Linked DNA regions of Homo sapiens. The protein of the gene in region 6 purifies or fractionates together with the protein of the main gene of each other region. This does not show direct contact. Each region holds a gene or a part of one and is shown on either strand. Other genes may lie near its edges.

Evidence for each region.
Region 1: the proteins of NHLRC2 (region 6) and TKT purify together in Homo sapiens (affinity purification with mass spectrometry, with the first as the bait; one large-scale study listed by BioGRID). This does not show direct contact.
Region 2: the proteins of NHLRC2 (region 6) and AHCY purify together in Homo sapiens (affinity purification with mass spectrometry, with the first as the bait; one large-scale study listed by BioGRID). This does not show direct contact.
Region 3: the proteins of NHLRC2 (region 6) and STAU2 purify together in Homo sapiens (affinity purification with mass spectrometry, with the first as the bait; one large-scale study listed by BioGRID). This does not show direct contact.
Region 4: the proteins of NHLRC2 (region 6) and HSPE1-MOB4 purify together in Homo sapiens (affinity purification with mass spectrometry, with the first as the bait; one large-scale study listed by BioGRID). This does not show direct contact.
Region 5: the proteins of NHLRC2 (region 6) and A2ML1 purify together in Homo sapiens (affinity purification with mass spectrometry, with the first as the bait; one large-scale study listed by BioGRID). This does not show direct contact.
Region 7: the proteins of NHLRC2 (region 6) and PIBF1 purify together in Homo sapiens (affinity purification with mass spectrometry, with the first as the bait; one large-scale study listed by BioGRID). This does not show direct contact.

Annotation. Positions count from the first base shown.
Region 1 is NC_000003.12:53,246,023-53,249,522, reverse strand, and holds part of TKT (transketolase), read left to right. Parts: intron 1-3,500. UniProt on the Homo sapiens protein: Catalyzes the transfer of a two-carbon ketol group from a ketose donor to an aldose acceptor, via a covalent intermediate with the cofactor thiamine pyrophosphate.
Region 2 is NC_000020.11:34,283,062-34,286,355, reverse strand, and holds part of AHCY (adenosylhomocysteinase), read left to right. Parts: intron 1-721; coding exon 722-916; intron 917-3,294. UniProt on the Homo sapiens protein: Catalyzes the hydrolysis of S-adenosyl-L-homocysteine to form adenosine and homocysteine. Binds copper ions.
Region 3 is NC_000008.11:73,425,341-73,428,840, reverse strand, and holds part of STAU2 (double-stranded RNA-binding protein Staufen homolog 2), read left to right. Parts: intron 1-3,500. UniProt on the Homo sapiens protein: RNA-binding protein required for the microtubule-dependent transport of neuronal RNA from the cell body to the dendrite.
Region 4 is NC_000002.12:197,506,879-197,510,378, forward strand, and holds part of HSPE1-MOB4 (HSPE1-MOB4 protein), read left to right. Parts: intron 1-3,500.
Region 5 is NC_000012.12:8,829,121-8,832,620, forward strand, and holds part of A2ML1 (alpha-2-macroglobulin-like protein 1 isoform 1 precursor), read left to right. Parts: intron 1-606; coding exon 607-659; intron 660-1,541; exon of another isoform or gene 1,542-2,186; intron 2,187-3,500. UniProt on the Homo sapiens protein: Is able to inhibit all four classes of proteinases by a unique 'trapping' mechanism. This protein has a peptide stretch, called the 'bait region' which contains specific cleavage sites for different proteinases.
Region 6 is NC_000010.11:113,899,661-113,903,160, forward strand, and holds part of NHLRC2 (NHL repeat-containing protein 2), read left to right. Parts: intron 1-2,005; coding exon 2,006-2,237; intron 2,238-2,810; coding exon 2,811-2,933; intron 2,934-3,500. UniProt on the Homo sapiens protein: Required for normal embryonic development.
Region 7 is NC_000013.11:72,795,633-72,799,132, forward strand, and holds part of PIBF1 (progesterone-induced-blocking factor 1), read left to right. Parts: intron 1-2,274; coding exon 2,275-2,394; intron 2,395-3,500.

The DNA.
Region 1 (3,500 bases), on a different chromosome or scaffold from region 6:
GTAACCTCCACATCCTAGGTTCAAGCGATTTTCTGCCTCAGTCTCCCAAGTAGCTGGGATTACAGGTGCATGCCACCACTGCCCAGCTAATTTTTGCATTTTCAGTAGGGATGGGGTTTCACCATGTTGGCCAGGCTGGTCTTGAATTCCTGACCTCAGGTGATCCTCCCGCCAGCCTTGGCCTCCCAAAGTGTTGGGATTACAGGCGTGAGCCACTGCTCCAGGCCCTTTTTCTTTTAAAAACAAATTTTTAGGCCAGGTGTGATAGCTCACACCTGTAATCCCAGCACTTTGGGAGGCCAAGGTGGGTGGATCATTTGAGGTCAGGAGTTCGAGACAGCCCAGCCAACATGGTGAAACCCTGTCTCTACTAAAAAATACAAAAAAAATGAGTCGGGCATGGTAGCAGGCACCTGTAACCCCAGCTACTCGGGAGGCTGAGGCATGAGAATCGCTTGAACCCGGGAGGCGGAGGTTGCAGTGAGCCAAGATTGTACCACTGCACTCCAGCCTGGGTGACAGAGTGAGAACTTGTCTCAAATAAATAAATAAATAAAAATAAAAACAAATTTCTAGCAGCTTGATTAAGGTATAATTGGCGTATCATAACATTGTAAGTGATTTTAATGAATTTGCAGAGATTTACTACAAAAATTTACCACATCTCCTAAAAGATCTCTTCTGGACATTTGCTGTCACTCCCCATTTCCACCCCCAGTCCTGGGCAACCACTAATCTAATTTTCTGTCTCTAAATTTAACTCTTCTAGACATTTCATATAAATGCAATTATACAGAATGAGTTCTTTTGGGTCTGGCCTCTTAGCATAATTTTTAGAGGGTCATCCATGTTGTAACATGAATCAGTACTTTGTTCCTTTTTTTTGGGGGGTGGGGGGCAGGGTCTCCACTGTGTCCCGAAGCTGGAGTGCAATGGCACAGTCATGGCACACTGCAGCCTCAACCTCCCGGGATCAAGCAGTCTTCCCAGCTCAGCCTCCTAAGTAGCTGGGAGGCACTCACCACCATACACAGCTAATTTTAAAAATTATTTGTAGAGACAGGGTATGTTGCTGAGCCTGGTCTCAAATTCTGGGCTCAAGTCCTCTTCCTGCCTTGGCCTCTCAAAGTGCTGGAATTAACAGGCATGAGCCACCACGCCCAGCCCTTCATTTCTTTTTACGGCTGAATATTCCGTTGTGTGGACATAGTGCATTTTGTTTATCCATTCACCAGTTTTTCTTAGCATTTTGCTCTTATCCTAGCTCTGCTGCTGGCAGGCCGTGTGACTTTAGGCAAGTCACTTTCTGTGAACCTTAGTGGCCCCATCCTCCGAATGAAGCATAGTCTAATATTTACTGAGCAATTGCTAATTTCTATGCATGGTGCCACGTTCTGTACATACACACTACATCATTTAGTCAGATTCTTCTTTTACCTCCGTTTTATAGTGAGGAAACTGAGGCTCAAAGAGGTTACAGCCCCAAGGTTACTAGGATACATCATGTATTCATTTGTGCACTCAGTTTGTGCCTGGTACTATTCAAGCCTGTGGATACAACAGTGAAAGGCCCAAAGCTCTGTCCTCAAGGAGCTTGTATTGCAGTAGGGTAGACAGGCAATAACCACCTAATGTCAGGTGGCAAGCATGAGTGAGGGGAAGAAGAGCTATTTTAGACAGTGTGGTCAGGGAGGGCTTCTTGGAAGAGGTGACATGGGGCAGAGATCTGAAGAAACAACCTGAGGTCTGGAGCCAGAGGTTCTTTCCGGGCAGAAGCCAGCTCGGGTAGTTCAGGGCACAGGAAGAGCAAGAACTGCTTCTGATGTTCATTTCCACCCTGACATCCTGGGATTCTCTCCTGAGTATTTTTTTTTTTTTTTTTTTTTTTTGAGGTGGAGTCTGTTGCCTAGGCTGGAGTGCAGTGGTGCGATCTCGGCTCACTGCAGCCTCTGCCTCCCAGGTTCAAGCAATTCTCCTGCCTTAGCCTCCCATGTAAAGTAGCTGGGACTAGTGGCCCGCACCACCATGCCCAGCTAATTTTTGTGTTTTTAGTAGAGGCGGGGTTTTGCCATGTTGGCCAGGCCGGTCTTGAACTCCTGACCTCAGGTGCCTCAGGTGAGCCACCGCCCCTGGCCTCTTCTAAATTTTTTTTTTTTTTTTTTTTTGAGGCTGAGTTTCACTCTTGTCTCCCAGGCTGGAGTGCAATGGTGAGATCTCAGCTCACTGCAACCTCTGCCTCCCAGGTTCAAGCGATTCTCCTGCCTCAGTCTCCCAAGTAGCTGGGATTACAGGCACCCACCACCATGCCCAACTAATTATTGTATTTTTAGTAGAGACGGGGTTTCACCTTGTTGGCCAAGCTGGTCTCAGACTCCTGACCTCAGGTGATCCACCTGTCTCTGTCTCCCAAAGTGCTGGGATTATAGGCGTGAGCCACCTGAATATTTAAAAAAAAAAAAGTATATGCATAAAGAAGAAGATAAATGATGTACTCTTGTCATAAATAATGAACCTGTGTGTAGCTGCTCCCAGGATTAAGAACTAGTACATTACAGTGATTTTTGGAACTACAGTGGGTCCCTCCATCCTCATCTTCCCTTCCCCTGAGAAAGAACTATACCCTGAATTTTTTGTTTGTTATCATTCTATTGTTTTCCTTTTTTTTTTTTTTGAGACGGAGTTTTGCTCTTGTTGTCCAGGCTGGAGTGCAATGGCGCCATCTCGGCTCACTTCAACCTCCGCCTCCCGGGTTCAAACGATTCTCCTGTCTCAGCCTCCCGAGTAGCTGGGATTACAGGCATGTGCCACATGCCCGGCTAATTTTGTATTTTTAGTAGAGATGGGGTTTATCCGTGTTGGTCAAGCTGGTCTCAAACTCATGACCTCAGGTGATCTGCCCTCCTCGGCCTCCCAAAGTGCTGGGATTACAGGCTTGAGCCACCGCACCTGGCCTGTTTTCCTTGTAGTATATACAAAAAGACTTGTACATAAATCAATATGGTCTTCTTTGTTAAACAGATCCTTCTGCACTGTGCTTTTTTCACACTATATTTGGGAGAGAATATTGATACCGGATTTGTGAAGTGTAGCTCGCTCATTCTTACTGCTGTATAGTATCCCATTATATTAATATATTCCAGTTAACCTCGTCTATTGATAAACATATAAGTGAGTTCCAGGTCTTGCAATTGCAAACAATGCGGGGCAGCCCTGTTTGTGTTTCCTTTTTTTTGTTGTTGTTGTTGTTTTTTTCCTGAGATGGAGTCTCACTCTGTCACCGAGTCTAGAGTACAATGGCACGATCTTGATTCACTGCAACCTCAGCCTCCTGGGTTCAAGTGGTTCTCCTGCCTCAGCTTCCCAAGTAGCTGGGATTACGGGTGCCTGCCACCATGCCCAGCTAATTTTTGTATTTGTAGTAGATACAGGGTTTCACCATGTTGGCCAGGTTGGTCTCGAACTCCTGACCTCAGTTGATCCACCCACCTCAGCCTCCCAGA
Region 2 (3,294 bases), on a different chromosome or scaffold from region 6:
CAGTTTCTGAATCTGAAATGGGGATGACAGCAGTACTGAAATCACAGGGTTGTTTCTGGGATGAAATGTGGTAGTTACCTGTAAAGGACTTAGTACAGGGCACATGACAGTGATCATAACGATAACATTAGCTGCTGCTTACTGAGTGCCTCATATGCGCCAAGCAAGTGTGAGCACGTGAAGTTCTCACAGCAGAACTGTGCAGTCTGCAGCTCAGCATTTCTTTGTTGTTTTTTTGTTTTTTGTTTTTTGAGACAGAGTCTCGCTCCGTCGCCCAGGCTGCAGTGCAGTGGTGCGATCTCGGCTCGCTGCAAACTCCACCTCCCAGGTTCACGCCATTCTCCTGCCTCAGCCTCCCGAGTGGCTGGGACCACAGGCGCCTGCTACCACGCCCGGCTAATTTTTTGTATTTTTTTTTTAGTAGAGACGGGCTTTCACTGTGTTGGCCAAGATAATCTCGATCTCCTGACCTCATGATCCGCCTGCCTCGGCCTTCCAAAGTGCTGGGATTACAGGCGTGAGCCACCGTGCCCCGGCCAGCTCAACATTTCTTAATAAATATTGGCTGTTATTTTTGTGCTAAGCCATGTGCTGGAGGTTGTTTTGGAGCAGTTCGGACTCCTCATGGGCACTGTTGGAGGCAGAGAGGCCTGCCAGATCAGAGGGTGGGCTGTGGGAGCGGGGCCCTGCCTGCCTTCACTGTTGCCCTGCCTGCGTGTAGGTGGACCGGTATCGGTTGAAGAATGGGCGCCGCATCATCCTGCTGGCCGAGGGTCGGCTGGTCAACCTGGGTTGTGCCATGGGCCACCCCAGCTTCGTGATGAGTAACTCCTTCACCAACCAGGTGATGGCGCAGATCGAGCTGTGGACCCATCCAGACAAGTACCCCGTTGGGGTTCATTTCCTGCCCAAGAAGGTGGGTTTATTCTTCTACCTCAAGCCAAGGGTCACGTGTCTAATCCTGGGATCCCCACACAGGGCTTGCCAGAGTTTATAAAGTGCTTGCCTGTCTGCCCTCTTAGAGGCCCTCATGGGGTCCTCTACAGTGCAGAAGTCATTCTCCCCATTGACAGAAGAAGAAACTGAGACCCACAGTAGGGAGTGGCTCCCTGGAGCACAGCAGAGCGGCAGGACCAGGTGGTGAGGAGAGCCTGGGCCTTGGAGCGGGACACACCCCAGTTTGAATCTCAGCCCCACCACTTACAGGCTGTGTAATCCAGGCAAATTCTTTCTCTGTCTTCATTTTCTCATCTGTGAAATGAAGGTAATAGCAACCCCCTTCAGGATTGTGAGGATTTCCTGAGATCATGAACCCACACACCCACAGGGGCTAGGCAGGTAAATGAGTGATGCCAGCTGAACAAGGACTGGAAGAGCTGAAGGGGTAAAGGGCTGGTTGCCACCTAGGAACCCAGGTCCGTCTGACCAGGGCTTCTAACCTTTCAGGAGAGCCAGAGATACCAAGATCTCTATACAAAATGATTTTCAAATACAGGCAACTCATTAAAATTTTATTTTGATTTTGATTTTTTTGAGATAGAGTCTCACTCTGTTGCCCAGGCTAGAGTGCAGTGACGTGATCTCGGCTTACTGCAACCTCCACCTGCCGGGTTCAAGCAATCCTCCCACCTCAGCCTCTTGAGTAGCTAGGATTACAGGCAGATGCCACCACACTTGGCTAATTTTTTTGTATTTTTAGTAGAGACGGGGTTTTGCCATATTGGCCAGACTGGTCTCGAACTCCTGATTTCAAGTGATCCACCCGCCTCGGCCACTGCACCTGGCCTCATTATAATTTAAAAAATAACTGGGTGGGTTAACTTGGACATGTGTATAAGCTGAGTGCAGTCTGCAGGCTGCACGTTGTGGCCTTGTAATAAGATGATACATCCCTGGCCAGGCGCGGTGGCTCACACCTGTAATCCCAGCACTTTGGGAGGCCGAGGTGGGCAGATCATTTGAGGTCAGAAGTTGGAGACCAGCCTGGCCAACATGGTGAAACCCCATCTCTACTAAAAATACAAAAAAATGAGCTGGGCATGGTGGCGCATGCCTGTAGTCCCAGGTACTTGGGAAGCTGAGGCAGGAGAATTGCTTGAACCCAGGAGGTGGAGGTTGCAGTGAGACGAGATTGTGCCACTGCACTCCAGCCTGGTGACAGAGTGAGACCCTGTCTCAAAAAAAAAAGATACATCCCTAAGCATGGCATCTCACTATGGTTGTATGGTCTGCATACTCATGAAGATGAAGTCCTCTGACATGAAATCCAGTGCTCACCCTAACACCCCATGCAGTCCACCCTTCCCTGGGGTCAGGACAGATGTTTTAGTCCTGGCTTTTCTTGGCAGTTTTACAGGTGAACTTTGCTTTGTCCCTTACCCTGTCCAATCCTCAGTCTCCTTATGAGCTAAATGGTAAGAGTAGCTCTTGCTCTTCCAGCCTTTTGCTGCTGGAGAAGCTGTGATGGGGTCTACATACCATCCCTTCATCTTTTGAAAGGCTGGTTCTACCAATTGAGGAAGACGCAGGAAGAGGCCTGGGGCATCTGCCTCCAGGGCCAGCCAACAACTAATCTCCCTGGAGCAATGTCTTGCTGGACCAAACATTTTACTCATAAGGACCTCAAGGCATACCTTGTTCTGTGCAGCTGGTTGTGGGGTTGAAAGATTCTCACTTGATCCCCATCTAATCCCAGTTGGGAGAAATATGGCTATGAGTTTGGTGAGAAATTGGTCAGGCCTTTGAAATGAGGGCAGGGTTGGAAGTGAAAGAGGCAAAGCTCCCGCCTCAGCACCTGACCCTGTCCTTACCACTTTTCTTCATCATTGCTAACATGTGGCTTGGGGACAGGACACTCTTGGCATCATGCCTCACATGCTGTATGCAGGCAAGGGACTAGGTACCTTGGTCAACAATGACAGAGAAGGCAGCCACCATTTATTAAGTCACCTACTGCACGAATGACTCTGAGTAGCACTGATCTTTGTAACAGCCTTGAGAGATGAGTGATCCATCCATCCTGCGAATGGGGAAAGTCAGGTGTAGAGACCGACTTGCTCTCACAGATGTTAAGTATCAGGCCAGGAATAGAACCTAGCTCTGTCTGTCCAAGGTGTTGACCTTAGGACGTGACACACACCTTCTGGTTCAGGGTGCTGGGAGAAGGAAAAGTTCTGGGCTAGTCCGGGCCAAGCAGAAGGTTGATTTCAATGTGTACTGTGGGGGTTGGAGGCCATCGTTCTACCTCTGGAACTGACGTGGACTCAGTTCTAGGCTGGGCCCTGGTCCTACTGT
Region 3 (3,500 bases), on a different chromosome or scaffold from region 6:
TGAGACCTGGCCTTCGTCTCATATATGCAGTTCTCTTCAGATGGAAGAGAGCAGGTGCCATGGGTCCTGGACTGGGTGAAGCAGGTCATTTGGTTCTGGTGTTCAGGCCACACTAAGAACCAAGTATTCCCAGTGTACCTAGTGAAAACAGGCTATAAGTAGCCTAAAAACGATTTTTTAAAAGATTTTTAAAAATTGTTTTTAGTTGTTGTTTTGCCCTTGCTAGGAATAAAACAGGACCGAGAAGCCCTAGAGCTCGTAGGAACCCCATTCAGCAGTATCACATTGCACAGTTCCATTTCCTGGCTCTCAGTAGCCCTCTGTGATGGTGCTTTTGGGATCCAGCACTGTCACATCTGGGTATTTACCTAAAAAGTTTGAAATTTGTGTGTCAAGAGATATCTGCACCCTCATGTTTATTGCAACAGTATTCACAATAGCAAAGATGTGGGATCAACCTAAATGTCCATTAATGGATGAATGGAAAAAGAAAATGTGGTATATAGACACAATGGAATATGTTCAGCTTTTAAAAAGGAAGAAATTATGTCATTTGCAACAACATGGATAGAATTGGAGAACATTATGCTAAGTGAAATATGCCAAACATAGACAAATCCCACATGTTCTCATTTATATGTGAGATATAAAACAATTGAACTCCCAGAAGCAGAGAGTACAGTGGTGGGTACAGAGGCTGGGGGTAGGTGGAATGGGAAAATGATAGTCAAAGGGTACAAAGTCTCAGTCAGATAAAAAGGATAAGTTTGATTTTTTTGGACATCTACTGCACAGTGTGGTGAATATAGCTAACAGTTGAGTACTGCACATTTTGATATTGCTCTGAGAGTATATTTCAGGTGTTGTCATCACAGAAAATGTTAAATAATTTATCATTATGTTACAAAAAATAATAAAATTTCAAATGTAATTGTCCACTTTGGAAGAAATTCATAAATTTCAGAATTTATGCCAATAATTCACATTTTAATGGCTCAGAAGAAAAGTAACTGGTCTTTTGTTAAAACTGTTGAATATACAAAGAACTTGAAGTTCATGAGCCCACTCCGTGAAAATGGGAATATCTGGAAAAAGGTCTGGCATGGATTGGTCCTTGGAGCCTACAAGTGAGTGAGCCTGGCCTTTAGCGCCCCACGCGCATGTGTGAGGTGGGACAGTGGGCCCCGGTTGATGGACACAGGCTGTGGGCACATGCACTGCCCTCAGCATAGCCGCCTTAGCACTTCAGGACTTAAAAGGACCTCAGAGTCACTGAATCAAAGCTCCCTGAGAGTCAAATTCCTCTGTGAATTCCTTTCTTGCAGGGAGGGTGGGGAGAACTGTCCAAACCTCAGTCTTTTGAGGGTGAGTTTAATTTTTGAAAACAGCAAAACTTCAGACAAAGCCAAGTCTAGTGAAGAAGGTCAACAACCAGGATGAACACATTAAAATAAGGTGGGGCCAAAAGATGACAAAACTGGTTTGCTTCTCTGACCCACAAAATGGTTCTGAGAGGTAATTCCAGAAGCACCTAGAGTAACACCCTCCTCCCACTGCTGCTGCCGGCACAACCTCTCCAAGGGTGGATAGAGAGCTCATATTAACATCTTTAAGGCTGGGCACAGTGGCTCACGCATGTAATCCTAGCACTTTGGGAGGCTGAGGCAGGCGGGTCACCTGAGGTCGGGAGTTCGAGACCAGCCTGACCAACATGGAGAAACCCCATCTCTACTAAAAACACAAAAGTAATCTGGCGTGGTGGTGCATGCCTGTAATCCCAGCTACTCGGGAGGCTGAGGCAGGAGAATCGCTTGAACCCGGGAGGCAGAGGTTGTGGTGGGCCGAGTTCACGCCATTGCACTCCAGCCTGGGCAACAAGAGCAAAACTCTGTCTCAAAAAAAAAAAAAAAAAAATCTTTAAAAATGGACATCATCTTTGGCTCAGAAATGCAATTTTAGGAATTTATCATAAGGAAAGTATTGAGATGATGCATAAAGATTGAACCAATAGGAAATTTGATGCAGTGTTGGTATCACACAGGATATCGATAGGATACTGTGCAGTCATGAGAAATGATGCTACCGAAATGTTTCTGTTGATACTGCACACATTCAATGAAAAGAGCACACAACAGATGAACGGACAAAAAACCATGGTATATGTATACAATGGAATACTACTCGGCCGTAAAAAAAGAATGAAATCCTGTCATTTATGGCCATGTGGATGAAACTGGGCGAATGTGAAGTGAAATGAGCAGGGCACAGAAAGTTAAACACCACTTGTTCTTGCTCATGTGTGGAAGCTAAAAAGGTTGATCTTACAGAAGTAAAAAGTAGAACAGAGGATATTAGAGGTTGGGAAGGGTAGGGGGAAGAGAGGGATAGGGAGAAATTTATTAAAGGATACAAAATTATAGCTAGATATGAGGAATAAGTTCTATTGCTCTATACCACTGTAGAAAGACTATAGTTAACAGTAATATGTTCTATAGTTTCAAGCAGCTAGAAGGAGAATATTGTATGAACCCAACAAAAAGAAATGATAAATGTTTGAGATGATTGATGTACTAATTACCTTGATCTGATCACTATGCATTATGTGTATTGCAACATTGTTACCCACCCCATGAATGTGTACAATTATTATTTATCATTGAAAAAAAAAAAAGCAGGTTACCTACAGTGTTAAGACATGATCCAGGCTACAGTTTGTAGACATGGGGAGAGGATACTAAGTGATATGGAGGCTGGGGGCAGAGGCGCATGCCTGTAATCCCAATACTTTGGGAGGCTGGGGCAGGTGGATCACTTGAGGCTAGGAGTTCAAGACCAGCCTGGCCAACATGGTGCAACCCTGTCTCTACTAAAAGTACAAACATTAGCTGGGTGTGGTGGCTCATGCCTGTAATCCCAACTACTCAGGAGGCTGAGGTGCAAGAATTGCTTGAACCCAGGAAGTGGAGGTTGCAGTGAGTCAAGATCACACCACTGCACTCCAGCCTGGGTGACAGAGTAAGACTCCATCTCAAAAAAAAAGAGAGAAAAAAAACAAGTGATATGGAAAGACGTGCGCCAAGATGTGAATGGTGAGCAGGATTGTGGATACTTTTTACATTCTTTTTGCTTGTCTATATATTCTGACTTTTCTGTAACAAAAAACTATTTTTATAACAAAAAATAATACAGGGAGAGAGAGAGAAGAGAGAGAGAGAGAGAGATTTTGCTATCCTTAAAGAGAAGCTATGAGGTCCCTGTACAGTTTGCTGGAGCTGCTGTAGTAAAGTACTACCAACTGAGTGGCTTCATCAACAGGAGTGTATTGTCTCACAGTTCTGGAGGCTAGAAGTTCAAGATCAAGGTGCTGGCAGGGCTGGTTCCTTCTGAAGGCTGTGAGGGAGAATCTGTCCCAGGCCCCTCTCCTCACTTCGAGTGCTTTGCTGGCAATCTTTGGTGTTCCTTGGCTGCTGCGGCATCACTCCAGCCCCTACCACCATCTT
Region 4 (3,500 bases), on a different chromosome or scaffold from region 6:
TTCTGTATTACCAATGAGAAACCTTGACTTAAGAGATAAGAAATCGTTCCAAGGACATGTGGCTAATATATTGTAGAGTAAGGAATCTGTTCAAAGGCTATGGCTTTCCCATTATTCTCCAATGCTATTTTCCTAAGACCCAGCAAATTAGTTTTGATATCTAAGGTAATAGTTCACAAAGCTTGGTTCATCTTTGCAATTGCCTGGTAAACTTAAAATTTCAGGGCCTCATCCAAACCTACTAAATCAGAAGGATAAGAGAATTTTTGAACCACAGAAGCAGTCCTATTGTGATGCCTGCCTAGCAGAATTGCTAAAGAAATAATTTTTTTTCTTTTTTTTTTTCTTTTGAGACGGAGTCTCACTCTGTTGCCCAGGCTGGAGCACAGTGGCACGATCTCGGCTCACTGCAAGCTCCGCCTCCCGGGTTAATGCCATTCTCCTGCCTCAGCCTCCTGAGTAGCTGGGACTACAGGCGCCTGCCACCACGCCCGGCTAATTTTTTTGTATTTTTAGTAGAGACGGGTTTCACCATGTTAGCCAGGATGGTCTTGATCTCCTGACCTCGTGATCCGCCGCCTCGGCCTCCCGGAGTGCTGGGATATTTTTCTTTTTTTTGAGACAGAGCCCTATTCTGTCTATCTGGCTGAAGAGCAGTGGTGTGATTATAGCTCACTGCAGCCTCGAACTCCTGGGCTCAAGCAATCCTCCCACTTCAGCCTCCAGAGTAGCTGGAAGTACAGGCCTGTGTCACCACGCGTGGGTAATTTTTTATTTTTTGACAGGGTCTTCCTCTAGTGCTCAGGCTGGAGTGCAGTGGTGCTATCATGGCTCACTGCAGCCTTGACCTCCCAGGTTCAATTGATCCTCCCACCTCAGCCCCCTGAGTAACTGGGACTACACATACATGTCACCATGCCCTGCTAATTTTTGTTTTTTGTTTTTTGTTTTTTTTTTTGAGACGGAGTCTCACTCTGTCGCCCAGGCTGGAGTGCAGTGGTGCGATCTCGGCTCACTGCAACATCTGCCTCCCGGGTTCAAGTGATTCTACTGCCTCAGCCTCTTGAATAGCTGGGATTATAGGCACCCGCCACTGCGCCCAGCTGATTTTTGTATTTTTAGTAGGGATGGGGTTTCACCATGTTGGCAAGGCTGGTCTTGAACTCCTGACCTCAGGTGATCCTCCTGCCTCGGCCTCCCAAAGAGCTAAGATTACTGGCGTGAGTGACTGCAGCCAGCCAATTTTTGTATTTTTTGTAGAGACTGGGTTTCACTATATTGCCGAGACTGGTCTCAAACTCCTGGAGTCAAGTGATCCTCCCTGCTTGGCCTCCCAAGGTGCTGGAATTACAGGTACACAATTTGTTTTTTAGTGAATGGTGTATGTATCTGACTTTCTTTTTTCAGAGATGGGGTCTCACTGTGCTCTCCAGGCAGTTTTTGCTCTCCTGAGCTCAAGCAATATTCCTGCCTCACCCTCCAGAGAAGCTAGGACTACTTTATTTTTTTAATCAATGAGTAGCTTGTTGTCACAACTTTACTTACTGGATTATCCATTCTTCTCCCTGCACACCACTCCCCGACCTCCCTTCTCTCTATGCCCAGAAATCAGAGATGTTGCCTTTATCATATACGAAATTTCTAAATATGCCTATTCATGGGTTTAATAATTTGTTCCATTGACCTCCCTATTCCATCACATTGCTTTCAATGTAAATAGCTTTATATTTAAGTTTGACATCTGATAAGGCAAGTCCTCCCTGTACCTATTCACCTGCCTGAGAGTATGTTCTTTGTTCCTATATGAGCCGCCAGCTTGTTCTTCAGTGTTATACCAAGTCATGCTTCCTCCAGCAAGTTAATTACTGTTTTCACTGCACCCACACAAAAATGGAGTTTTGAACTTTTGACTTATTTGTGTGACGAGTATTTAAATCCAATCCCTTCCCTTCCCTTCCTTTTCTTTTTTTTTTAGAAGGAGTTTCGCTCTTGTTGCCCAGGCTGGAGTGCAATGGCACGATCTCGACTCACTGCAACCTCCGCCTCCCGGGTTCAAGCGATTCTCCTGCCTCAGCCTCCTGAGTAGCTGGAATTACAGGCATGTGCCACCACACTTGGCTAATTTTTTTTGTACTTTTAGTAGAGATGGGGTTTCACCATGTTGGTCAGGCTGGTCTTGAACTCCTGACCTCAAGTGATCCACCCACCTCAGCCTCTCAAAGTCCTGGGACTATAGGCATGAGCCACCACACCCAGCTTAAGTATATTTTCCTTTACTCTCAAGCAACCTCTATGAGAGAGCCCAATCAATCCCAGCTCTTGTCCTGTGTTGCTTACATACTAGTTCTGCTACATTTGACAAATTACCTAACCCCTCTTAGCTTATGAATGAACTGCAAAACAAGGGCATTAGATTTGCCTCTTAACGTTTTGAGTCAAGCCTGTTATTTTGTTGTTAAACTTTTATTTATTTAAAAATAAATAATATGTTCATGTAAAAATTTAAAATTATAGACACTGAAAAGAATGCTCTCTATCCTTGTCCCCCAGCCACCCAGTCCCATCCTTGGAAGTAACTAGTATAATTTTTGTATTCTTCCTTTAAGGTGTTTTATGTATATACACATATATGTAAATGTGTACTATATATGTACATATCTTATGTATATAAAATATATATTCATTTTTTCTTTTTCAAAAAATAATATTCCATACATAACATTTGACACCTTGCTTTTTTACATTAACAATTGGTCTCTGGGATTAATCTATAGATAAAGACACTTTAAGACTGTATAATGTTCAATTATATGGATAAGCCATAATTTATTTCAGGATGCACCCCCAGCAATGATAGATATTTAAGTTATTCTAACCTTTTTCTATTAGAAACACTTCTGCAATGAATAAATGTATGCATAACTAAATATGTACATTTGAACAAGCATATCTATAAGATAAATTCCTATAGAACTGCTACGTCAAAGGGTCTGTGAATTTTAATCATGCATGTACGCAGATACAGACATGGATCTCCAAGTTGTCCTTCATTGAACTCCCATCAGTTTTATTTATTTATTTATTTATTTATTTATTTATTGACACAGAGTTTCAGTCTTATTGCCCAGGCTGGAGTGCAGTGGCACGATCTTGGCTCACTGCAACCTCCACCTCCCAAGTTCAAGTGATTCTCCTATCTCAGCCTCCTGAGTAGCTGGGATTACAGGTGCTCGCCACCACGCCTGGCTAATTTTTGTATTTTTAGTAAAGATGAGGTTTCACCATGTTGACCAGGCTGGTCTCAAACTCCTGATCTCAGGTGATCCACCCGCCTCCAAAGTGCTGGGACTACAGGCATGAGTCACTGCGCCCAGCCAAAAGGTCCATGAATTAACAGTCCTACTAGCAATGTATTTTTTTTCTTCTTACTCTCTGTAATGCAGGATGTTATAAAGTTCTTATTTTGCCAATCTGATAATTTTACTCTTTATCATGATGAA
Region 5 (3,500 bases), on a different chromosome or scaffold from region 6:
TCTTCTGATTTTTGGTTCTTATGACAGTGCTGTTTTGCGTGGGCAGTTGTTCAGTTTGGTGTTACTGTGGGGGATGAGGAGGGTGGTCAATGGAGGCTTCTATTCTGCCTCTTGCTCTGCCTCCTGAGCTCCAGGCCTGTGTTTGGACTTTACCTTACTCTCAGAGCAGGTTTTGTAAAAAAGTAAAACCTGTTGGGGTTTTGCTGACTCAGAGCATGTGTGAGGAAGGAGGAGGGATAGAGGAAAGATTCTGAGCAGGAGGCGGAGCGCGGTGGCTCACGCCTATAATCCCAGCACTTTGGGAGGCCAAGGCAGGTGGATCACCTGAGGTCAGGAGTTCATAGACCAGCCTGGCCAACATGGTGAAACCCTGTCTCTACAAAAATTAGCCAAGTGTGGTGGCACCTGCCTGTGGTCCCAGCTACTCCGGAGGCTGGGGTGGGAGAATCACTTGAGCCCAGGAGTTTGAGGCTGAAGTGAGCCACGGTTGTGCCACTGCACTCCAACCTGGGTGACAGAGTGAGACCCTGTATCAAAAAAAAAAAAAAAAAAAAAATTCTGAGCCAGGAAACATCCCCTTTGCTAATGATGCCTGTTCCTTTCCAGTGTATTTCCGCATTGTCACCATGGATAGCAACTTCGTTCCAGTGAATGACAAGGTGAGTTGGGAGGAGGAGAAGGAGTGGCGCAGGGAGAACAGGGAAAAGGATGAGAGATTCTCTAGGGTGGAAGTCCTCTCAGCCTGGGCGTGGCAAGGCGAGGCCCTCTGGGTTGGAGACTGCTGTGTGCGTGGGACTGGAAGTGCTGGGCGAGCTTCAGGGAGCTAGCCTAAATCAGCCTAGGAACAAGCAGAGGTAACCAGTTCTCAGCTTCAGTATCTACACATTCATCAGGTTCTTGAGAGATGGTTATGCTCCTTGTCATTTTATTTTATTTATTTGTTTATTTAGAGACAGAGTCTCGCTCTGTGGCCCAGGCTGGAGTGCAATGGCGTGACCTCAGCTCACTACAACCTCTGCCTCCTGGGTTTAAGCAATTCTCCTGCCTCGGCCTCCCAAATAGTTGGAATTACAGGCGCGCACCATCACGCCTGGCTAATTTTTGTATTTTTAGTAAAAACAGGGTTACATCATGTTGGCCAAGCTGGTCTCAAACTCCTGACCTCAAGTGTTCCACCCACCTCGGCCTCCCAAAGTGCTGGGATTACAGACAAGAGCCACCATGCTCAGCCCCCTTTCATTTTAAGAGTTTTCGCAAACTTCAAGACCTTTTCTTCAGGACTGACAAAAGCATTTTTTTTTTTAAGGCAGAAAGGAGAATGTCCGCTTCCACTCTGTTTCTATGAGGCAAAATAATTTACAAAGTAGGTAATTCTCTTAGGGCAACATTAAATAAATACATGCCAAAGCTTAAAATGTAGCAACATTTTGCGAATATTTGATTTTTCCTTGGACTCCCCATCCCTAGAATCATAAGCCTTACCACAGGTTTGATTTCAAGTTGGAGCATGTGTCATTTCTACATGCTTCTGAGACACTTACCTCCCGGACACCCCTGCTTTCTTCCTCTTCCGTCTGTCCCAGCCTGTGTATTCAAATGAAACTTTTAGAGATAAACATAGAGAAAGCATGATTTCCATTTTCCATCTCCGTGTTCTCAGAGCTGCTGTTTCCTTTCCCTATGTGCAGGGGAGTTATTAGCTTGTTATGATTGGTAATGCCCTACCCGCTACTCTCTTTCCCAATATAGATTTCCTTTTACTTCCTCCTTCCCATCACCTATGGCTTTTCTTTGGTAGGTATAACGTTGAGTACTTCTTACTTTTTTTTTTTTTTTTTAACATTTTAAGACAAGGTCTCATTCTGTCACCTAGGCTGGAGTGCAGTGGCAGTCATGGCTCACTGCAGCTTTGACCCTGCCCCGGGCTCAAGTAATCTTCCCATCTCAGTCTCCCCAGTAGCTGGGACCACAGGTGTGCACTACCACACCTGGCTAATTATTTTATTTTTTTGTAGAGTTGTGGGGGGCGGGGGTCTCACCTTGTTGCGCAGGCCGGTCTTGAGCTCCTGGCCTCTCTCGCTTTGGTCTCCCAAAGTGTTGGGATTATAGGCCTGAGCCACTGCACCCGGCCTGAGTGCTTACTTCTTAACAGACTGTTTTCTCTAGAGCTGCAACAAGGAAGTGCTGGGTTCAAAGCGTGGCCCGCAGCAGCACTATTTTAGACTCACTTACCCTCAGGGTTGATCTCATTAACTACCCCTGTTACGATTCAAATGAAGCGGGATTACTTCCAGGTGTTCTGTTTTCTGCAGTTAGGCTCTTTCTCTTGTGAAATTACTCCTTCCTCCCCACTCTATTTCTCCAGCCAAACTCTCCCTCCAAATTCAGTTGAAACACTGAGATTAACAAAAGGAATTTTACCAAGAAAGCTAGGATAAAAATTGTGTTTATGTAACCACCCAATGGGTTCACCTTGCCTGCTGCTTAGACAGGGTTGATTTATCGAGACAGGGGAATTGCAATGAAGAAAGAGTAACTCACCCAGAGCCGGCTGTGTGGGAGACTGGAGTTTTACTGTTACTCAAATCAGTCTCCCTGAGCATTTGGAAATCGAGTTTTTTTTTGTTTTTGTTTTTGTTTTTTTTTGAGACGGAGTTTCATTCTTGTTGCCCAGGCTGGAGTGCAATGGCGCGATCTCGGCTCGCCGCAACCTCTGCCTCCCAGGTTCAAGTGATTCTCCTGCCTCAGCCTCCCAAGTAGCTGGGATTACAGGCATGCGCCAACACGCCCGGCTAATTTTGGTACTTTTAGTAGAGACGGGGTTTCTTCATGTTGGTCAGGCTGTTCTTGAACTCCCGACCTCAAGTGATCCGCCCGCCTCGGCCTCCCAAAGTGCTGGGATTACAGGCGTGAGCCACCGCGCCTGGCCAGGAAATCGAGTTTTTAAAGATAATTTGGCAGGTAGGGGCTTGGGAAGTGGGGAGTGCTGATTGGTCAGGTTGGAGATGGAGTCATAGATGGTCAAAGTGAGGTTTTCTTGCTGTTTTCCTCCTCCTGGGTGGGATGGCAGAACTGGTTGAGCCAGATTACTGGTCTGGGTGGTGTCAGCTGATCCACTGAATGCAGGGTCTGCAGAACATCTCAGGCGCTGATCTTGGGTTTTACAACAGTGATGTTCTCCCCAGGAGCAATTTGAAGAGGTTCAGACTCTTGGAGTCAGAGGCTGCATGACCCCTAAAGTGTAATTTCTAATCTTGTAGCTAATTTGTTAGTCCTGCAAAGGCAGACTGGTCCCCGGGCAAGAAGGGGGTCTTTTTGGGAAAGGGCTGTTATCAATTTTGTTTCAGAGTCAAACCATGAACTGAATTCCTTCCCAAAGTTAGTCTGGCTTACACCCAGGAATCCACAAGGACAGCTTACAAGTTAGAAGCAAGATGGAGTCGGTTAGGTCTGACATCTTTCACTTTCATAGTTTCCTCAGTTATAATTTTGCAAAGGCG
Region 6 (3,500 bases):
TGTAATCCCAGCACTTTGGGGGGCCGAGGCAGGCAGATCACAAGGTCAGTAGTTCGAGACCAGAATGACAATATGGTGAAACCCCGTCTCTACTAAAAATAGAAAAAGTTAGCTGGGCGTGGTGGCGCTTGCCTGTAATCCCAGCTACTCAGGAGGCTGTGGCAGGAGAATCGCTTGAACCCAGGAGGCGGAAGGTTGCAGTGAGCTGAGATTGTGCCACTGCACTCCAGCCAGGACGACAGAGTGAGACTCCGTTTAAAAAAAAAAAAATTGAAATTGTTCCTTATATAAGTAAGAGGAAGACGCAACATCAGTAAGATTTGAGTTGTCAAGGAGGGCTTCTTGGAAGAGGCAACTAAACAGTGACCTGATAAGAGTATAGGAGTTAGGGAGAGTGGAAAGTTTTCCAGGCAAGAATTGGCACTAGTGATGTCAGTAGAAGCCAGATCACACTGTGCCTTGTGAGTACTTTTAGGGATCTGAATATTCTACAAGCCTTTTTAGAAAGGTTTAAGCTGGGAAGTGACATGATTAGATTTGTGTTTTTGAAAGAACATTGGCAGCACTCAGAGTGGAACAAGACTAGAGACAGAGATAAGAGATACCACTGAGGAGCCTATTGCTGTTATCCAGGCAAGAGATGATAGTAGCCTGAACAGTGAGATTACCAATAAGATTTTACATGAGGCATAATTATAAACAGCAGAGAAGTAACAGAAGTTGCCAGAATATGCTGTTCTGGGTGATGGCTGTTTTAGGCATAGATGATTCAGAGCTGCCTGAATTTCCTCATAAGTAGAGTTGTCACTCTCCTTCTTAATAGGAAATTGGCACTAGGACCACACTGACCTGTGTTTTAATTTTAAGGATGTATTATCTTTATTACCGATCTTCAGGTAGTAATGACCCTTAGCATTTTAAAAGTTATTGTTTCTCCCTACTCTTTTCTTTATTTAATTAAGGAAACTCCTTTTTAAAGTATTAAGACTCCTTGTAGACTCCTTTCAATTAATTTGTTCAGCATATTAGTTATTACATATATTGTACTTGCTATGTTTATATGTTTCTTGAATAAGTGGCCATATTTTATGCGTGCTAAATCCCTTTGCCTCTGTCCCCTGCTCCCTACCTAACTTATTATGGGAACATATTAGCCAGTAAGTGATGGTGAGTTCAGACTTTTGCATGTTGTACCATATTCAGAAATGATTTACACAGACTCTCATTTTGTGTCCCGAGTCAGCTGCTTCCCTTCCCTCAACACAACACACTACCATGTCTTTTTTACAGTCTCTCTGGAATAAACTTAGAAACCAGGATCTAAAGCTTTCTCTGCATTACAAAAGGAATCATTGCAATAGTTCCTTAAATAGAAATTTCCCTAATGTATATAAGAAATTGATTTGTACAATCGATATAATTGTACATAATTATCCCATGTAATTTTAAGATAATTATGTACAATTATATTATTTTTCATATAATAGTAATGTCTGACCTGGCCAACTTTCAAAAACTATTCTTTAATTCCTTTTGCTGGTCTCTGTTTATATATAAGAACACAAAACATTTTTAATGAAAATTGAAGCTTTAAACTATCAAGAGCTAGATGATCTTTTTAGTTCCCTTTCCGAACCTCATATTGCATGAAACTAAGAAGTTAAGAATTTAAGGTAGTAAAAACAACCTATCTCATCAATAATCTGATCATTATTTTTATCTTATAATTCTATCAGGGATTTGTCGTTTAACATTTGAAAGTGATTTCAGTTTTGTGTGTATCAAAGTAAAGTAAGAAGTTCCCTACACAGTGGGTAAATAAGTTAATGGTTGGAAAAATGATAATGAAAGCTGACTTGAACAATTTAACTAGACCAAGATCACTAGTTTGTTTTTTTAGGAGGCTTATCACTTTTGATTTGATTATTCACATTCATTTATTTAAGAACTAAATTGCACACAATATACCACATGTTGACTCCACCTATGAACTTGTCTTTTTCAGTGAGTTAACAAAAGGAACCTGCCTTAGGTTTGCTGGAAGTGGAAATGAAGAGAATCGAAACAATGCCTATCCTCACAAGGCAGGTTTTGCCCAACCTTCAGGCCTTTCCTTGGCCTCTGAAGATCCCTGGAGCTGCTTGTTTGTAGCAGATAGTGAGAGCAGTACAGTGAGAACCGTTTCACTGAAAGATGGAGCAGTGAAGCACCTCGTAGGAGGAGAAAGAGACCCCATGGTAATGACAGTCACTCTTGCACAGTGCGCTCGGACACTGAGCAAGCTGTCAATTTTGTGAATTATGGAAAGTTAATAAGATTTAAGAGAGACCATCCTTGGCCTATCTGCGAATCAAAATGAAAGTCAGACCAAAGGAAATGTGAATGTAAAGCAACGTGAGGAACACACCATCTAAGAAAAGTGAACTGACTCTACTTTATTATGTATAAATGTTAAGGTTTCAGGGAGAAAGAAAGGATGAAGCATTGATTATTGGAGAAAAGAAAAAAATGTAAATTAGATATTGGGCAGTGGGGTGGAAAGAGCACCAGACTAGTGGACTTGACCTATTCCTGACCAGATGTAGTATTGTGAGTAAAACTACTAAGCACCACCAATTAATACAGGTTCAAAATACTGTCATTTTTTTTCTAATCTGAATGAAGTATCCAACCCTATTTATATGAAAATCAGCATTTTCCCTTTTAACTTAAATACCATTTGTAACTGTTTGAATTTTCCTTCATATTCTAACAAAACACTGTAAAAATTATAATAACTGCTGTTTCTTTTCTTTTAAAAAAAATTAAAGAATTTATTTGCTTTTGGTGATGTTGATGGAGTAGGAATCAATGCAAAGCTTCAACACCCCCTTGGAGTAACATGGGACAAAAAAAGGAATTTACTTTATGTTGCAGACTCCTACAATCACAAGGTGAGTCGTGACAGAATTATATAATATCTTGCTTTTTGTGTGTGGCATTTAAAATGCTGAAAGATCTGTGAGCCTCCTACAACTGCCACTCTAAAATATAGAAAGGAGTAACAGTCTTTGACAACTATAACCCAGCCTGTTCTGCTCTTTTCTTGGTCCTTTCTTTGCCAAGAGGTTATGATGGTATTCTGAACTAGGGAAAGCACAGAACCAGTTCCAATGGCAATAGCCAACAGTTGTGAATTGCAACCCATCAAAGCTGCTTAGTAACATATTCAGTATATCAAGAGAAGGCAAGTAGCAGGGAAATTTATATGTCATCTAACAAATGAACGTTTTTGAGCTGTTGCATAGTTACAGTGCTTGTTAGTAAATAATTTTGTTTTCAGCATTTCCATTTTTGTCTATTAAATTGTCTTAAGTTTTATTGCATTTTTACTTTTTACAAAAATCAGTGGATAATAAATGTTCATGCAGTACTTCATGATGTGAGACCATAAATTTAATATAATTGAGACATAACTGTCAATCATTAAGTTTAACAAAGGTAGCAAATTCTCAGGCAAT
Region 7 (3,500 bases), on a different chromosome or scaffold from region 6:
ACTTTTGAAGTACCCAATTGATACATTATTTTATGGCTATGGATGGTGAATGGTGTTGAGATCCAAATTTTAAAGGATCATGACCATTGATCTCCAAAGTCAAGCAATAAATAGGTTTCTGAAGTTAATGACTGCATAGTCCATAGAAATGAATTATCGTAAACTGGTGGTTTCTTACATTCTCAAAATGAAAAATTATAAACAACAGAGTAGTTGTTGCCAGGGGTTGGTTGGGGATAGTGGGAGAGAGGAGTCAGCGTGGTTATAAAGGGATAGGATGAGAAAGAACTTTGTGGTGAGAGATTGGCGCAAGATCTTGATTGCAGTGCTGGTTACACAAATCTAGAACACCTAGGATTAATCTATGGCAGTGGTCTCAAATATTTTGGTGTCAGCATTCATTTACATTCTAAAAGTTATTGAGGACCCCAATGAGTGTTTGTTTATATGGGCTGTATCTATTAATATTTACCATACTAGAATTTTAAACTAACAACTTTTTTAAACACAAGAATAAGCACACAATTCCATTGGCCTTAAGAGTGATAATGTCATATGTCATGTAGCCACTGGCAAACTCCACTGAACAGTCATGAGAGAATGAGAATGAAACGGGGAAAAAAAATCTTAATAATTACTAGGAAAGTCGTTTTGATCTTGTGAATTCCCTGAAAGGATCTCAGAGTGGCGAGTGGGGCAGAGTCCAGGAGTCCCAAAACCATATGTTGAGAACTGCTGCTTTTTAATATGTAGATGTCATTTTACCCTGAGAGGCTTGAATTTTTTAATCCCTAAAAAGGGTTAATAGTAACGGTGCGTTTCTATTGGGGATAATTGTAAAGACTATAACTATGTATGTAAAATGCTTGTGAGCATAGTGCTTAGAAGATAGTAAACACATAAAAATGTTGTCTATTGTTTTTGCTGGAGTGGTGGTTGCTATTCTTGGTTCTCATTGGGAAAAGATTTGCAGATTAGTGATGTCTGATAAAATGAAGTTACTTTTTTGTTCAGCTGTTTTTTTTTTTTTTTTAAAAGGCTCAAATACAGCTTTTCTGTCCAAAGTATACTGTCCAAAACAAATTAAATATCTCAAATTCTGTTTTTGAGGCTTCATTTACAGTAGATATAAAGTATCACACTGGTGGCAGTTACACATATTTTTGCTGTTTGTTTTCTTAATATTCCTTCTTACATCTTTTGTTTTCACAGACAATATTATCCTTAACTAATTAATTATATGCAGATTCTTTTTGTTGAGGGCTAGTATTAAGATTTGCCTCTTACCAAATAATGGTATTCTTGTAATACCGTCATATGTTAAGGAGTTTCAGATTGCATGCCTATATGATAGCCCCTAATTACTCTCTCCTAATTTGCTGTGATGATTTCTTAGTTTTATGGGACCTTGTCAGATGGAACACTTTACTGAGCTAGGGTAGGAAAATTTCTCTGAGACAAGTATGAGTGGAAAGAGAGACCTGAACTAAATGGAAGTAATGATGTGAAAGATACCTCTTGATTCATTCTGATTAGACTTCCACTGTAGGGACAGCAGTAAATAAAGCTTTGCCAAGAGCCTGGGATGAAAATAAAGAATACACTTTACCTCTTCATCAAGTATTTATTGAGTGCTTATCATATATTTAGGCATTGGAAATACAGCGGTGTATAAACCAGACAAAAATCCCTGCCCTCAGGTTGTGAAAGTGGAGCAACACAGGCAATAACTTAAAAATTAAATATGTAGAATATCTGTTTGTCAAAGGTGCTACAGAGAAAAGAGCAGGGGTGAAAAATAGGGAGTGCTACTTAAAATTAGGTAAAGAAATCAGGGAGGGCTTTACTAACAAGGTAATATTTGGTCAGAGACCTATAGGGAGACAAGGCATGAGCCATGCATTTATATGGGGGAAGAACTTCTCTAGCAGAAGAAACAGCAAGAGCAAGACTCCTGAACATTTGTGATATGTTCCAGAAGTTTACAAGCACCTAGTGTGGAGTGAGCAGTAGTAGATGAGTAGTAATGGAGTGTCAGTAGAAGGGAGGAAATACTGTCAAAGGTAAGAGGTTATAAATCATCTGGCCCTTGAGGGAAGTTAATTGAACATTAAGGCTTGATAGAAAGTATTAGTGGCTAGGGTCCATTAATGACTGTCTTGTTGTAGTTTTGTAAATATTTATCTTTATTACTGATAAGTGAGAGCACTACAAATTACAAATTTTAATTGTAATTTGGATTTAAGACTGCTTATTAATTTAATTTTTTTCAAGGTTCGCTTCTATGAGCTAGTGAATCCATTAAGAAAGGAAATCTGTGAACTACAAGTGAAAAAGAATATCCTAGCAGAAGAATTAAGTACAAACAAAAACCAACTGAAGCAGCTGACAGAGGTTTGTATGGTTTTGATTGCTGGTGGGAAGAAGCTTCGGCTTTTTCTGTAGAGTCCCTCAGGATTTGTGATAAGGCATATAAAAGTCAGTGATTGAAAAATGGGACTATGGGATGGTGACTGCTACAGTTCAATAATGGGAAGGAGGTTAAATTGGAAGTAGTCATCTTAAACATTGACAAGACAAGTCTGTGTTATTGACGTATCCTATAGTTGAGCTTTTATTGTTGCAAGTCAATTTTATAATCAACTGCTTTTGAAATCCTAATATGGGCTATATCTGAAAATTGCTGTGTATCCTTAGATGACGCATATGCATGTATTTATTTAGTAATTTGTCTCTATTTTTAACATCACTTTGTCAGGAAATTTAAGCAAGAAACAAGAAATGTAGGCCAAGCTATGCAGGGGATCTCTTGCAGGTGCCATAAGAAAGAAGAAAAGGAGAATATTTTTACTTTGAACTAAGTTGACTCGTAGGTTCTGGTTTGCCTAAGACTGTTGCCATTATTCCTGTGAATAAATATTAATAGCACCCCTTTATTTTCAAAATTATCTCAGCCTAGACGATGAATATAGTAATCATAAATCAACATTTATATAGAAGGGTGGACTAATCATTAACTTGGTTGTATTATTGACCAGATATCCTAGAATACTATCTTGTAGTTATAGTCTACTAACAAAAAAATAATGGTAGATTGATTCATTCTACCATGTAACAGTTGGAAATGGGTGGCTGTTTTTCTTCAAATATTTCGTTATTCTAAAAGGAAAACACTTCTAGTTTACAAATGGGGGCTGCTGCAGTTCTTCATTACAAGTTAGCCTTGTTCGTGATATGAGATGGAGCTACTGTCCATTTATTACTTACGTGGCTTCTTTGTGAAGTGCAGTTAACTCTCATAATATTTATTCTGAGCATGTGTACTGATACTAGCATTAACCCCAGTGGTGTGCATGGTGCTGTGCTAGGTGCTGGCAGTGAACCCAAGAGAGGCAATGCCTGCCCTTCTAGAGTTTACTTTCTAGCAGGTTAGGATTAGAACGTTAGGTGATATTTTGACACTCTCATTTACTGTGTGACCATGACCAGGTCATTTAATG